Linked DNA regions of Homo sapiens: region 1 is linked to region 2. Evidence: fine-mapped expression QTL. Tissue or cell type: whole blood. Region 2 holds a variant in brackets; the other region holds the start of a gene. All regions are shown on one strand. Distances are between the middles of the regions.

Evidence for each region. PIP is the estimated chance that this variant, and not a neighbour inherited with it, causes the effect.
Region 1: EPHA1-AS1 starts here. The variant in region 2 is fine-mapped to the expression of EPHA1-AS1 in whole blood (INTERVAL, PIP above 0.99).

What each region holds. Positions count from the first base shown.
Region 1 is chr7:143,403,856-143,411,855 of GRCh38, forward strand. EPHA1-AS1 (EPHA1 antisense RNA 1) reads left to right here and starts at 3,958. Exons shown (of 5, transcript NR_033897.1): 1 at 3,958-4,031. EPHA1 (EPH receptor A1) reads right to left here and starts at 5,001. Exons shown (of 18, transcript NM_005232.5): 1 at 4,869-5,001; 2 at 3,756-3,823. The coding sequence starts at 4,950. RefSeq lists enhancers at 974-1,488, 5,073-5,685.
Region 2 is chr7:143,501,810-143,510,073 of GRCh38, forward strand. EPHA1-AS1 (EPHA1 antisense RNA 1) reads left to right here. Exons shown (of 5, transcript NR_033897.1): 3 at 2,965-3,021. Among named protein-coding and RNA genes, the nearest start is that of TAS2R41, 28 kb to the left of the region's middle. RefSeq lists a silencer at 2,645-3,105. The variant C/T (reference allele first, on the strand shown) is at 3,362.

The sequences.
Region 1 (8,000 bases), 98 kb before region 2:
ATAACCTTTGCATGACATTCTATTATCTTTTGATTACTCAGTTGGATGAGTTTCTTTTTTAAACTTATTATAGACACGAATCATTTCCTTCAAATGTATGTTTCAAATATTTTCTCCCTGTCTGCCATACCACTTAGCTTTGCTAATGATGTTTTGATGTGGACTTACATTGTAAATTTCTTACATAATAACATCTACAGTATTTCCCTTCATGATTTCTGGGTTGTATATTTGACTTGGGAAGTTTTCCTATCTCAAGATTATAATGATCTATATTTTCTCCTAAAATTTGTGTAGGTTGGCTTTTAGGTTGAGATTTTAGTTTTCTTAGAATGAATTTTGTGTATAATGGAGAGATATATCTTTTTTTTTTTTTTATGAGACAGAGTCTTGCTCTATTGCCCAGGCTAGAGTGCAGTGGTGCGATCTTGGCTCACTGCAAGCTCTGCCTCCAGGGTTCACGCCATTCTCCTGCTTCAGCCTCCCAAGTAGCTGGGACTACAGGCGCTCGCCACCATGCCTGGCTAATTTTTTTGTATTTTTAGCAGAGATGGGGTTTCACTGTGTTAGCCAGGATGGTCTCGATCTCCTGACCTCAGGATCCGCCCGCCTCGGCCTCCCAAAGTACTGGGATTACAGGTGTGAGCCACCGCGCGTGGCTATGGAGAGATATATCTTTATATATTTATTTAAAAATTATGAATATCTAACCGTCAGTTTATTAACTAGGTATTACTTTCCATATTGATTTGCAATTCCGATGCTATCACATACTACAACCTCATATGTGTAGGCTCGTTTTTGGACTTTCTATCCTGTCCCATTAACCTGAGTGATCTTGTGCAAGACATATGTTTTAGTTATAGCTGATGGTTCTGATATCTGCTTGTCAGACAAGTCTCCCATTTCATTCTTCAAAAACTCTTCTCAACCATTCTTATTTCCTCTGTCAGATGAATTTTCAAAAGCTCTCAAATTCTATAAAGTATTCTATTGATATTTTTGTTGCAACCCCATAATTTAATGCAGAATAGACTGAGGCCCTTAGAAAGTTCACTTTCCTGAGGTTTCTACTCCATTATAATGCAGGGGCCCTCATCCCTACCCTCAGCTCTGGGAAAAGGCAAAAAAAAAAATCATTAATCAAAAATTTGGGGTGAGGTGGGGCAGAAATAGAAGCTGCTATGAGGCACATATTTCTGCATTATGTTAGGGAGTTCAAAGATTGGGCAAGGGGTGTCTAAAAGGCAAGGAAGCTGGAATGAAAAAGGCACCAGGAGGCTTCTCCTAAGGAAGGCTGTGCTGGGGAAGCCCAAGTGGAAGGCACTGGCGGGGGTCAGGTGGGCAGGGTGGTGAGTGGTTAACGTGCAGCTCATTAGCCAGATTGCCGTGGCTGAAGCTGGAGCCAGGAGAAGCAGATGTTCCCAGCTGTGCCTTGCCTCTCCCAGTTCCAGCAGTGACAGATGGGCGAGAGCCAGCTGTCCAGGATCAGCAGTAAGGATCCTTTTGCTTATCACTCAGGCGCTGCTGGCTGCCACATGGGTGCATTCTGGACCTGAATGCCTGCGTGTGCATGTGTGCGTGTGTGTGTGTGTGTGTGTGTGTGTTTTGAAAAGATGGGGAGAAGGAGGGGGACAAGGTAGATAGTGGGAGTGTATGACTGCTGGCTGTCTCCTTGCCCTCCTAGCATGCAGGACTGTTTTGCCTGTGCTGAGAAAGTGGCCTTGCTGCCATTCCAGTCAAATTAGGGAAGAGTTATTTGGGTGGAGGTGTCAAGGGCCCAAGGAAGGCCCATGGGAGCCAGAAGTCTGACCTGCAGCTATCACTGTGGGTGATTAGCTGATTTATGAGATAAGTCAACTATTAGGGCTGGATCTTCCAAACGGCCCCTCCTGGAGGATCCACTATGGTTTAGTCTATTAGCTCTAATTACAGGCTACTCTGTAGGAGAACAGAGAACGGAGCCAGGACTGTAGGACCCAGAGGGAAAGAAAGCAAGTAACCCTGACCCCAGAAACAGGGGCTGGATTGAAGTCTCAAGTACTGGGGTAAGGAAGGAAACCCTGAGAGAAGGGGTTCCAGAGCCAGAGTTGTAGATGCTCCAGTAACTTAGGCAGCCCCCTAAGTGGTTCTGTGACCAGCTGTGCTGCTGGCAGAAAGGGTGCTGTGAATTGTAAAATATATATTTGGTCTTTGTCCACATTTCCTGGCAAACAACCCCTAAAGCCCTCAAAATCCCTGAAGTGACAAATGTCTTTTTATATGCTAGTGAGCTGACTGCCGGGGATGGGAACTAGACTGGGGTGGGGGAGGCCTGGGTGGCAGAAGGCAACCTTGTGATTGGAGTTGGGACTTTCGGCCCCACCCCCAACTTCCAGGGAAGGTAGAGAGGTTGAAGGTTGAGCTGATAACCAGTGGGCAATGATCTAATTAATCACGCCTATGTAATGAAGTCTCCATAAAAGCCCAGAAGGATGGGGTTGGGAGGGCTTCTGGATGGCCATACATGATTAGGTCCCTGCAGGGTGGCTCGCCTCCTTCACATATACCTTGCCCCATGCAGCTATTCCATCTGGTGTTCATGGTACCATTTGTAATAACCGTTATAGTAAGCCAGTAAATCCAAGTCAATGTTTCCCTGAGTTCTGTGAGCCATCCTAGCAAACTAATTGAACCCGAGGAGGAGGGTCAGGTAAACCTGATTACAGCCGATGGAACAGAAGTATAGGTGACAACATGTTACTTGTGATTGTTGTCTAGAGGAGGGCAGTCTTGTGGGGCTGAGCCCTCAACCTGAGGCTATCTCCAGGTAGATAGTGTAAGAACTGAATAAGATTAGAGGACACTCAGCTACTGTCCACTGAAGAATCTGCCAGAGAGAACTGACTGCAGGCGGGAGGAATCCCTACACGCATTTTGGTGACCACAGGTCACCGAAGTGATTTGTGTTGAGAGTGCAGTAGGAAAAAACTGAGTTTGGTTTTTTGTACATCATAAGAGCTGCTCTCTGCATTTGAGTCTGAATATGCTCTCTCAGACCCACCTCACAACCTGTTCACTGAGTCTTAGGAACATCCAAGGAAGGAAGGGAACTGGAACAAGCTCTGACACTTTCAAACAGCTGGAATGCATGGTGTGCACGCAGTCAGCCTGAGGAGGTGTGGAGGATGAGCTAAGGGCTCAGAAACCTTTAGGGGAGCAGCTTTTAACTTCGGAGGAGTCAAAGACCCTTTGAAGAATTTGATGAAAGCTTTGGCTGGTCTCTCCAGAAAAAAAAATGCCCGCTTACATATACAGAATTTAGAGTACACTTTCATGGGGTTTCCCCACCCCCTGAAACCTATCAATGCAACTTCATTGGGATGAATGGATCTCAGATTGAGGATGCTTTTCTGCCTTTTCTATCCCTCCCCAAGCAAAGCACTGGTCTCAGCCTTCAACCATCCCCAGCATGGTGCATTCTCTCCCCGGGTATGTGAGCTCCTCTCCCCCTCACAAGTATCAGCTTGTATTCACAATATTCCCAAGTATTCACTGGAGGAGCCAGGCCATTCAAGCGTTCATCTTGAGGTGAAGTCTGACCCCCCCACCCCTTGTCCCATTGAGGAGGCTCTGACTCAGCCTCCTCTCCCCCTCCCTGAGGAGACACTTCCAGTTTTTCCTGCTCTTTTCTCTGTTCCTCCACCCACCTCTCCACCCCATTTCCCACTGGCCTTCAGGAGTTTTCCAAGATCCTTCCCTCTTCCGACACTTACCCCATCTTTTGGGGGATCCAGCAGCCAGCCCAGCTCTCCCTGTGCCTTGCTTGTGTCCATCAGAGTAACTGAAAGTGGGGAGAAAAGAAGTCTGTCACCTCTGGGGGAGGAGGTGCCCCTGCAGCCCACATTAATCATTCTGGGGCCTCAGCCCCAGGCTGCAACATCCTGTTCCTAAAAGCTGTGACTTCCTGAGGCTTAGGGGAGAAAAAGGGCTCAGGACTGAGGAGTGAAGAGCTCCAGGGATTTCACTCTTCTTTGTGTGTGTGAAGGAAGGCAGGTAGAGTGGGACAAGGGTTGGGGCGCTGGGTCTTTGACCAAAGTCAATGCAAGAAGAGCAGCCCCACGAGACGCTCAGTTACCCAGGCTGCTGCGTCCTGGGACACCCATCAGCTGCAGGATTGGAACGCGTGGAGGGCAGGAGGAGCTCACCTCTGCTAGCCAGGAGTGGGCAGGGTGGACCGGGGACCTCAGAAGGGGTTTCCTGGGTAGGGAGGCTCACCTCCACTGTCCGAAGCCTGCTTTGGCCTGACCTGGCCAGTGATCAGAGCCGTGAAGTGGGGATAAGAGGCACAGCTACCTGCCTGGGAAGTGGGGGGGAGTAAGGCCGGAGAGGGTGTTCCAACTTTCACATGGAATATTCGACTCGGACAACTGGGAACCCCTGTGGCGTCAGTCCTAACCCTTCTCCCGGAGGCAGCTCCCTCTGTCCCTGGCCTAGGTTGGCAGGAGGCGACTTCCCACCTTCAACTTCCAAGGGCTCAGATCTCTGGGGTGGGCACCTGAAGCTGGGACTGTCTGGGAATGCAGGCAGGGGTGCGGGTGCAGGTGCTACTTCCTGGCAAGGGTCCGGAATTCCCTCCCCACTCCCAGGAGCAGATTGCTGGCCTGCGGGAGTGGGGGTGACTGACCCGGGAGAGCAGCCGCTTGGGGTTAAAGACCAAAGATGGGCCTGGCCAGTCGATAGCCTGGCGGTCGGGCACAGCGAGAGAGCTGGCGAGGGTCTCGGGGAACATGGCCCCTAGGAATGCCGGCTTCTGCAGGGGGGTGCTGGCCGGGCCCCGGGAAGGGGCGGGGCGCGGGGGTTGGGGGCGCGGGGGCGGGGGTCGGTACCTTCCTTGGCGCGCGCCCCCGGGGGCAGCGGGGCGCAGAGCAGCAGCACCAGCCCTAGCCCCAGGGGCCAGCGCCGCTCCATAGCTCCGGGCCGGGACCTGGGACAGTGGCCCGGATGGCAGCGCCAGGTTGCAAGGGACTAGGAGAGCCGGGCGGGCCGGGCGGGGGCGGGGGGCGGGGCCAGCGCCGGGGGCGGAGTCCCGGCCTCACCTGGTTCACCTCCTTAAAGGGACAGTAGGGCAGGAAAGAAACTTGCTAGACTGGTAATCAAATTCAAGAACCGGAGGCGTCTTGACCCGAATGAGACTGCGGGCGCCGCCTAGTAGGTGGGATTAAGAATTGACGAACCTTTTCCCAATTCTAATCCTAAACTCAACCCAATCTTGATCCAGCTTTTAACCTAATTCTACCTCTGACTTGAATTACACTCCTATATTCCTCTTTCTGTCTTTGTGCAGGCCCCAGAGCTGGGTAATAGGGCCGGGGAAGGCAAGGGGTAAGAGTCATATCTTCACCCTCTAGCAGGGGAGGCTTAGATGACCACAATGCAAGGTGGGGTACAACCTGCAGTGAAGCATCTGGAGATTAGAAGAGGAAGCAAGCCCAGTCATCGGGGCACATTAGTTGAGTCTTCAGGGAGAGCTGGTGTGACCTGGGTTTTCAGTGGCAGAGATTGGGAAAGGCACCAGCAAGGGCCTGAAGGCAGGGAGCCTCAAGGTGCGCCCAGGGAGTGGTGAATGGACCAGTTTGACTGCTGGGGCGCAGGATTTGTCTTGGGAATCAGGGCAGAAAGGCAGGTGTGGGCCAGGGCTGGGTAAACAAGAAAAGGAGTTTGAACCTTGACATGCACTTACACAGCAGACATGAATATCTGGTTAAGGTTCCAGCCACAGGTGGCAGGGAAGGATATTTTAACCCATCTTAGTGGTGTCAAACCACGTGCCCTCTCACTTTCTTGCGGACTTCCTTATATTCTTTTTCTTTTTTGAGATGGAGTCTCGCTCTGTGGCCCAGGCTGCAGTGCAGTGGTGCAATCTTGGCTCACTGCAACCTCCGCCTCCCTGGTTCAAACGATCCTCCTGCCTCAGCCTCCCGAGTAACTGGGATCACAAGCGTCAAGCGTGCACCACCACACCCAGCTAATTTTTCTATTTTTAGTAGAGACGGGGTTTCACCATGTTGGCCAGCCTGGTGTCGAACTCCTGACCTTAGGTGATCCCTCCTGATCTCAAGTGATCTCCCTGCCTCTGCCTCCCAAAGTCCTGGAATTACAGGCCTGAGTTACTGCGCTCTGCCGAGACTTTCTTATATTCTATTTAGTAAATGTTTGTTCAGTTTCTGCTATGCATGCAGGAAGCTCTAGAAGCACCTAAGAACAGAAGGACAATGTCTTGCCCTATATAAGCTATTAATTTGGGGATGCTGGGGGTTGAGACATAAATAATTGCACAAATGATTGAAATGGCGGGCAGGAGTGGACCCCAGGCAAGGTACACACAGGGATCACAGTAGCTCAAAGGGGAGTGATGCATTTACTAAAGAGGCTGGGGGTCCACTCCTGGCCCCTCCTTCTTTCGCTCCATCCCATCTGGGTAAATTGTTCATAATTTTTCTATCATTTACATTGTTGCACATTTCGGTACTGTGAATGAAGGGAGGTGGTGGATTATAGGTGCTTTTTCTCATTTTCAAAATGTAATGCTTCTCAGGTTTTTTGTTTTTTTTTTTTGCTTTCTTATGCAGATACGTATATGACAAACACGGCCCATCAGTTCTTGGCTCAGACTATCCTTATTTGCATAAATAAATGTAATTCATGTACATTGGTTAGGAAATTCATGTTGAACATACAGAAACAAAATGGGAAGTAGAACCCTCTGCCCTCCAACACTCTAATTTCTGTTCCCCAAGTTAACCACCATCAACTGTTTCTTGTAAGTCCTCCCAGGATTGCTTCCTCGCTGTGTACACACCATCGTGTATTTTTCCCTCCCTCTCTCCCTCTACTCCCACACTTACATGCTTTTAAAATGTGTATACAGAGGGGCCATCTGACACACATTGCTCTGCACCAGAGGCCTCTTTTCTAATGTTAAAGACTCCAGGAAGGAGGAGGAGGCTCACGCTGGCTGGCGGGGGTCAGAGCTTTGTGATTTCAGCAGGGAGGAATGGGCGAAGGGTACAAAGCCAACAGAAGGGGGGAAATGGAGCAAGCGTTGGACAATTGCTGCTAGGACATAAGCCAGACTGTGGTGAGGTAATGCATGTGCTTGCTGCTGCAGTTTGTTAAAGTTACAAGACCCTTGGGACTCCAGAGGGTGGGGGGTGGGGGGTGGGTGTGTGGAGTGGGGGAGACTGCTCCATGCAGTGAGACATGGAGTCTAGAACCCTGGAAAAAAAAGTCTTGCTTTTTGTTTTAGGATAGGCTCTTTATCCTGGTCTGAAAGTCTCTGCATATGGGGAATGAATGTCCACTTTCTGTCTCCTTTCAGGATTATCTTGATTTGACATTTTCTGGTTAGTTTGTCATGAGAGGAGGCACATCTTCAAGTTTAGTCTCTGTTCTTAACTAGCAGTACAACTTTTGTCAAATTATTTATGTTCTCTGGACCATGGTTTCAGTTTCCCTAGACCTAGATGATTTCTGAGGCTATATTCAGGGATGGTCTCAGAAAATAAAAAGCTAGCAGGATTTTGAGTCAGGAGACTTTGGCCAGTTCCCTTAGCCATAATGTGCCTCAGTTTCCTTAGCTATAAAATGAGATTAATCACGTCCACCCCACAGAGTCAGTGTAATGATCAAAAGAGGAGAAAGTGCTTTATGAACTGTAAGGTACTGAGCAAATGTTAATTGGCTAGGAGAATGGTGGAGGCTAGGAATTGCTGGAGTTCTCCTGCAGGCCTCCCAGCTTGCTCCCAGAGCAGAACAACCTCAATTACTAAGACATCATTATTTTTCCATTCCAAAATCAACTTTACTGAGGGACAACTTGCATAAAATAAGTTGCAGCCATTCCAAGTGTACGGTTCAATGGGCTCTCACAAATGTATATGCACCACCACCTCAGTCAAGATGCAGAGCAGTTTCAGCATCTAAAAACATTCACTGGTGCTCCTGTGAATCAATCCCAC
Region 2 (8,264 bases):
ATGATTATCCAAGAGTAAATTGAGGTCCAGAAGCTGTTCAGAGGCACAGGAGCCCTTTTTCATCTTGTCTTTGTTCCTGTTGATAGTGAATATACAGCAGCTGTCTTGAAGATGGAGAAGGAAAGTGAGGGGTGCTGACTGAGAAACTGCCTTACAGACCTCCTTCCTCTCTCCATCTACCTCTAAGTCAAATGAAAAGGAATCCAGTGAAATTCTCCCAGCTCCCTTAATAAAGATGACTCTCCAGCTCTCATCTTGCTAGGAGAATGTTCCACTTCTTTTTCCACAAATAAAAATAATTTATGTTTGTACAGTGCTTAATTTCAAGAAATTTCATAGATATTATTTCATTTGAGGAAGGAGAGAATTGGGGCTGGGTTAGGCCACACAAGCCTGGCTCAATGTCAAGTATTTCCTAAATGGAGACAGAGGTCTGACTCTAAGCTTTATATATGACACTGGTTAGATTTTAGAGTTTTTTAGTTTTTTGAGTTGTGGTGGGAGAAGCACTATAATCATTATTAATATAGCCACCATGAAACATAGATTTAAAATTCTGCTCTGCTAGTTTGAGGTAGCATTAAGATCAGTAGAATGATTTTGAAGGTTTCTGCTTATCAAAGAAATGTTTAAAGAAGAAGAAGTGTGGGTGTGGTGGCTCACACCTGTAATCCCAGCACTTTGGGAGGCTGAGGCGGGTGTATCACCTGAGGTCAGGAGTTTGAGACCAGCCTGGCCAACGTGGTGAAATCCCCTCTCTACTAAAAGTACAAACATTAGCCAGGTGTGGTGGCACACACCTGTAGTCCTAGCTGATTGGGAGCCTGAGGCAGGAGGATCACTTGAACCCAAGAGGCAGAGTTTGCAGTGAGCTGAGATCACACCACTGTACCCGAGCCTGGTTGACAGAGTGAGACTCCATCTAAAAAAAAAAAGAAAAGAAAATATCTATTTCAAACATCTTTAACAAACAATTTTAAGGTATCTAGGCTGTCTAAACATTTATTCTAAAGTTCTCTCTACGAAAAACAATCTAGACTTTATAAAAGATTAGTAAATCTAACCTATTATAAAAATAGTTAAGTTTATAATACCAAGTTAAATTTTTTAGGATCTATATGTGCTTTTTATGATTGGGACACTTGCATTAAGAATAGTACTGCTTATACAGATTTTATTAAAGAATTAGACTTATTTCACTACTTTATTTCAAAGATTGATAATACTTTTATTTTGGTGTATTTTTGGCCATATAGAGGATTAATTTAATGGTAAGTTTTAGTCAGAAAACCAACCTTCTATCATATTGTCCTTATAGGAAAATACAATGAACGATATCATGTTGTACTCTTTGATAACATAGTTTTCTAGGAATATTCTGGGTAAAATGGTTTAAATAATTTGGGAGTAAATTTCTTTTGCTGAAGCTTTTAATTTCAACTACTCATGCAGCAAAATATTTTGCCAAAGTCCAATGACTTTCAAGTTTAATAGTGGCATTAGGTAAAGCTGAAAATAGGCCTATATTTTGTGAACATAATCACATTATGACTGAACCTCCTTAGACTTCCTTCCCTAGCCTTGTGGCCAGGATATAATTGCATCCGTCATGGGCCATAAGTCCCAGTGCAATGACGGGTAATTGATTTTGATGTGGAGGTTGAGGGGTGAGAGAGGGAGGGCTCCTCCCACACCACATTGCAAGCCTTCCTAAAAATCACCCAGACATCTTTGATGTCCTGAAATCCCTTTCCCCATTACAGCTGACTCCTTCCCAGTAACTCAGGCTTCCTCACTTAGATGCCTATGCATGATTCTGCTCCTGGACAGGGTCATGTGTTGAGGCAGGCATCTTATGGAGAGAAGGATGTGATGGAGCACTGAGCTTCTCAGGGCTGAGGGTCTGGTATCTGACTCCCCAACATCATATATTGTTGGTCACTAGCAGCGGAACTGTGGCGTCTTCACTAGAGCAGTCCCTCTATATGCTGTGCCTTGGTTCCTGGCTTCATCTTTGCCCAACTCTATTGTCCTCCTACAGATTCTGTGGGTCTTTCCCTAATAAATGATTTTTTCTGTTTAAATAACTCTGAAGGGATGTAAGTTTTAAAAAAGCCACCAAAATTCTCATTGACCCTGTTAACTTCAACTTTACTTCTAAGCCAGTTCTTAGCCTTTCCAAGTACTTTACTAGTCTTCCCATCTCAGAATTTCCCAATGTACAGGAAAGAGAGCCAGAGGGCAGTTCAGCAAAACAAAATCACAGCCACCTCGGGATCCCCAATTTGTCCAGGGACAACAACAGTAGCAAAGATACGAGGTCTTGGAGAGAAACCCTCCCAGAACCCACACAAGCAGAGGTGGAAAAGGTAGACTGGAAACCTGGTTTCTTCTTTTCCTGCTGTTCCAACCAGCAAGCCCCTTGCCCAGGCCCTACCAAATATATACCCATTTTTCTTCCAAGGTGTGTCCTTTCAAGGTATGGGGCCTGCAGTATAAAGCTAGTGATTTTCTTTGCTTAGAACAGCTCTGGGACTTCTGCACTGATTCTGCCTACCGGAAAACATCTGCTATTAATAATGCCCTACTAATAGTAGCTAACAGTGCCAGGCACTGTTCTAAGCATATTTCCTATATTAGCTGTGATTATCACAACCCTGTGAGGCAGGTGCTAATGTCAACTCCAGCTTATCCACTGAAGACTCAGAGGCCCAGAGAGGTTAGAGGAACTTGTCCAAGGTCACAGTCAGGAACTTCAGGGGTCAGAATCCAGATCCAGGTAGCCTGGCTCAATGCCCCTGTGCTACGGCACTGCCACTTTTCTCTCCGAGGCCCAGCCCTGCCTCTACAGGTGCTGTGCTCCAGCAACGTTCAGGTGAGGCACTTTACTTTTCCCTTTGTGATGTGTGCTTTAATGATAATGAGACAAGATGGATTAAATTCACTTTCATGATTGTTTCCCAGAAGGCAGCAACTGCTTTCGGGAGCAGCTGAAGGCTGGAGATAACATGGACCTCCATGGTGAGTCAGTAAGACCCATCAATCAGGCACAGCCAGGGGAGGAGGCAGACACTGCAGGGAAGATGGCCACCAGGAGCAGCTGAGGGATCCAACTGCTGGATTAAGGGAGATTGTGTGGTTAGGAGGCCTCCCCTCCCATTGTAAGATGAAGGAGGTACATTTGTCCATTGTCAGGAGGATCATAGAAAATCTTAATCTCCACTATGTGGGACTGGTACTTCAGAAGCTCCAGGCAAAGACTTAAGTCATTAATAGGCTTAATATAAAGGCTTAGCTGTTACCTACAACTCAAATATCTTGGAGAAATGTTGCCCCCCAAAGGGCTACACAAATATTACTT[C/T]TCTAAGTGAGCCTCAGCTTAGATGTGGGAAATGGTCTTATATGCAGAGAAATTTCATTAAATTTTAATAAGTATTTTTCCACATTTACTTCACCTTTTCTTTTTTCCTTCTGGATAGTGGTGTTCTAGTTCCCTCCCTACAGCCCCCTTTTAACTGTCCACTTGTCCAGTTACCCACCTTCTGTAGGAAGTATTCATTGACTGGGAACTGCAAACTCGGTGATCTAGCCACTTCCCCTCAGTTGAAAGTTGCTATGTCAAGAAAAAGAACCTGTGCAATTAGAATAATTGGAACTTTCCTACCTTAAAGATGTTCATATACCTGGGTTCTAAGCATGGGAGATAGTAGTGGTAAATAATGTATGAGCTCTCTGAGGAGGTAGGTGAAGATGAGATCTGGAACTCAAGGAGGGTTAAATTTAAGCAGAAGCAGGGTAGCCTCTTCCACTGTGAAGGACTGGAGTAATGATTAGAGGGCGGTGACTGTCAACCTTGACTACACCTTAGAATCACCTAAAGGGAGTTGTTGAAAACCCCAATGCCTGACTTACACCAAGACCAAGTGATATAATTAGGCTTTGTGTCCCCACCCAAATCTCATCTTGAATTGTAATCCCCCAAATCCGCATAATCTCTCCAAGGGAGGGACCAGATGGAGATAATTGAACCATGGGGGTGGTTTCCCCCATGCTGTTCTCGTGATAGTGAGTGTGTTCTCCCAAGATCTGATGGTTTTATAAGGGGCTCTTTCCTCTTCTCTTGGCACTTCTTCCTGCCACCTTATGAAGAAGATGCCTGCTGCTTCCCCTTCACCTTCCACCATGATTGCACATTTCCTGAGGCCTCTCCACCCACGCTGGACTGTGAGTCAAATAAACCTCTTTTTTTTTTTTTTTTTTTTTGCAAATTACCCAGTCTTGGGCAGCTCTTTATAGCAGTATGAAAATGGAATAATACACTAAGCAAATCAGAATCTCTGGTGTCAGGCTCAGACTTCAGTAGTTTTAAAGGTCTTTGGGTGATTCCAGTATGCAGCCAAGGAAGGAGCCCACTGATATAGCAGTATAGCAGGGCAGCAGAGGATGAGGCCCGTCTGAGTTTGGATCCTACAGAATTATAGTGGCCCTGTTATAGAGTAATGAGATTTGTCTTCAGAAGTATTGAGCACTCACAGATTTGTATTAGAGATGTCAGAAAATCGGATTGAGGTTTGTAAATTGGGTGTGTAGAACACAGACAATGGAGTTGAGAGTGTTGGCTCAAATAATTAAACATTAGTCTGAGAGATCTTGATTTTGAAAGAAAGTGAAGGAGCTTCATTTAGGTGGCACACAGGTGGAGAGAACATCTGGGCCAAAGGATTGAAGCTGTTGATGAAGGTGACAAGGGATGGTCTCAGAGCAAATAAATGAGAGCTGGGAAGTAAGAGGCTGTGGTGAAGAGAGGATTTGGTGAGGCATTGTTTTCAGACCCATGATGGGATTTGTTATAGAAAGACAGCTCGAATTAATGATGGTCCAGTTGAAGGGTTACAGAAAAAATTTATTCCATGCACACTGTCTTACATATCATTTTGGGACTGTGTGTATTGATTATGTTTTTTATTTTCTATGTTTTATGATGCTTCAACATCTTGGAGGCCTTGTTGGCTGGGAGAGACTGCTCCTGTCAGTGCTAACTAGTTCCTAGGTATGCAAACATCTTTAAGAAGGGAAAGTTCCCATTGTTTTAACTGCATAGATTCTGTCCCTATGAAGTGGCAACTTTCAGCTGAAGGGAAGTGGCTAGATCACCAAGAGTTTGCAGTTCCTGGTAAATGAATACTTTCCCAGGCTTTGGGATAACTGGACAAGTGGGAATTTAGAAGAAGGGGCAAATGTGTCCCCTGTGAGAATGTCATTAAGATGCAAACCAACCAATCCAGAGCTCATATACTCAGTCACCTCCTTTATCTAACTCTCACATGCCAAGTCAACATTTTCCCCACCCTAATCACCCCAGGGTGAGGTCTTGGACTACTAGATACCACGCATGTCATCCAGAGCCTGCTGAAATTATTCAAACTATCCTATCTTAGACTTCCTTAAGTTTTCTACTCCACTCACTCATTTCTTCCCATAGAAACCACAATCAAGTCTCTCGGGCATGGTCTTCCCTTTCTTTTTCTGTCTCCTGACAGAAAGAGACAGTATGCCTCTCCACGTGGCCCTGCATGACACAGCTTGCCTCCCCCTCTTAGGAACTGTGAGTAATAAACTGTTCTTTCAAAGGCAGCTGTTTCTGTGTCTGTCACTTTACCCTACCTGATTAAAACAAATCTGGGTACAAATCTTGAAACAGTGTTAAATATTTCAGCATTTAAAATGAAAGACAATGTTATTTCCCATTCCAGCAGTTGATTACACAGATTTGAATGGCTTCTCTGTGTTCTTTTAACCCTGGATGGAGTGTGGCAGTCATTATATGATCTCTGGCTAGACAGCATTTCTGTATGTGTGTTTTGTTGTTTGGTCAGTAGACCTTTGCACATGCACCGCTGAGGTTTGTACAGGTGAATTCAGTACTTTCTGGGTTGGAGTAGGCATCTTAAAAGCCATCTTTGGCTCCAGTCATACTATTCTAGAAATCGCAGTATCATTTTGGCACTGTTGATTACTCCATCCTTGAAATTCCCTTTCTTGGTTTCCATGACACCACAATATGTTTGATTTTCTTCTACTTCTCTGATTGCTCTTTTAAAAAAAACTCCGTTGGGTATTCCCCTTCCTCTGCCTATCCTGTATTTTTATTTGAAAAGCATTTATTGAATAACTGACACATACATGTATGTAAGGAAGGTATTCGATGAAAAACGTAGGTTTATCCCACCTCTATTCCCCAGTCTCCAAACTTTTACTTTGGCAGAAATATGTGTGTCTTTATCTGCGTGTATACATGCACACGTAGAGAACACATAGGAAATATACAGACACATACATGCACATACAATTATATAAGTGTGTGTATATATATATATGTGTATATATGTGTGTGTATATATATGTGTATATATATGTGTGTGTATGTATGTGTGTATATATATATATATATATTTGTTTGAGATGGAGTTTCGCTCTTGTTGCCCAGGCTGGAGTGCAACGGTGCAATCTCTGCTCACCGCAACCTCCACCTCCTGGGTTCAAGCGATTATCGTGCCTCAGCCTCCCAAGTAGCTAGGATTACAGGCATGTGTCACCACACCTGACTAATTTTGTATTTTTAGTAGAGATGGGGTTTCTCCATGTTGGTGAGGCTGGTCTTGAACTCCCGACCTCAGGTGATTGGCCTGCCGTGGCCTCCCAAAGTGCTGGGATTACAGGCATGAGCCACTGCACCCAGCTACAATTAAATATTTTTGCTCATAAATGCTAGCATACCATAAACCTTGATTTATTTACTCATTCATTCAACAATTTTTTAAGACTCTATTCCATGCCAGACACTGATAGGAACTGGGAATACCATGGTGAGTGAAGCAGATGGCCTTTCACAGAGTTTATGTTGGAAGGAATGGGCAATTAGCAGTAGAAATGCAAGTAAGATGATTTCCAGTAATGACAGATGATTAGACATTAAAGCATGATAATGTGAGAGGGGGTGGAGAGGCAACATTACATGGGGTGTTCAACGAAGGCCTCTTTGAGGAGTCAATATTTGAGTTGAGACAGCATCTGAATGACAAAAAGCCAGATTGGGAAGATCTATGGGAAGAGCATTCCAGGAGTGGAAATAACAAGGGAAAATGTGAGATGTGCCAGAAGACAAGAGTAGAATGAGGGATGACTCCTTAATACACATAATCACATGCTTTGCTTTTTTCATTTAACAACTTTTATGAGACCTGGTTCCACACCTGCCATAGATAAAACTGTTTCATTCTTCTCAGCAGCTGCATAGAATTCCATCACAGGGATAAACCAAAATGCATTTAATTGGTCACATATTGATTGATATTTAAGAAATTACTAGATTTTTGATAATCCAAGTAACGCTGACATGAATATTTTTGAACATTCATATTTTCCCACAAAGCAAATAAATTTGTAGGGTCAAACCCTGGAAGTACATTGAAACAAATAATACATGCCATTTATTTTAATTAATATCATCCACTTTCCCTGTATAGAAATTGTATACATTTATACTCTCATTAATAACATACAAGAGAGCCTGTTTCACCTTCCTGCTCTGTGTTAGTCATCTTTCAGTGTTGTTAATTTGACAACTTTATAATTTTATTTTGCTTTCTCTTATGAATGAGATTGAAACCTTTCCGCTGTGTAAGGGCTATTTACATTTCCTTTTCTACAAACAGTCTATTCATAACTTTGCCCATTTTTTGGAGTTATCTTTTTCTTATTAATCGTTAAGAGCTCTATATGTATTAATGAAATGAGCCTCTTTCATTCATTACATGTGAATTTCCAAGTTTCTCTTTTCTCTTTTTGGTTTGCTTAAAGCGGCATCCCATGGAGAAAGCTTTGGGTTATTTTTTACATAATAAATTTCATGTTTTGTGTTATGCTTAGAAAGTCAGTTCATTTTTTTAATGTTAATGCTCCTTGTCTTATCTTGAAGCTGCTCTTCTAACTGCACTTGCTCATTCTGGGAGATCTCGGCCATGCAAATCTCAGATATGCTGGTGACTTCTACCAGCTATGCCAGTTTTTAACATGCTGGTGACTTCTACCAGCCATGCCAATCTCTAACATGCTGGTGAATTCTATCAGCCATGCCAGTCTCTAACATCGGCATTTCTCTACCCAGATTCTCCTGACGCACATCACATAGACTGCTGAGTGTGCTACCCCTTGTCAACATAATCAACAGTGAACTCATCAACTCCACCTTGTCCTTCCCTCAC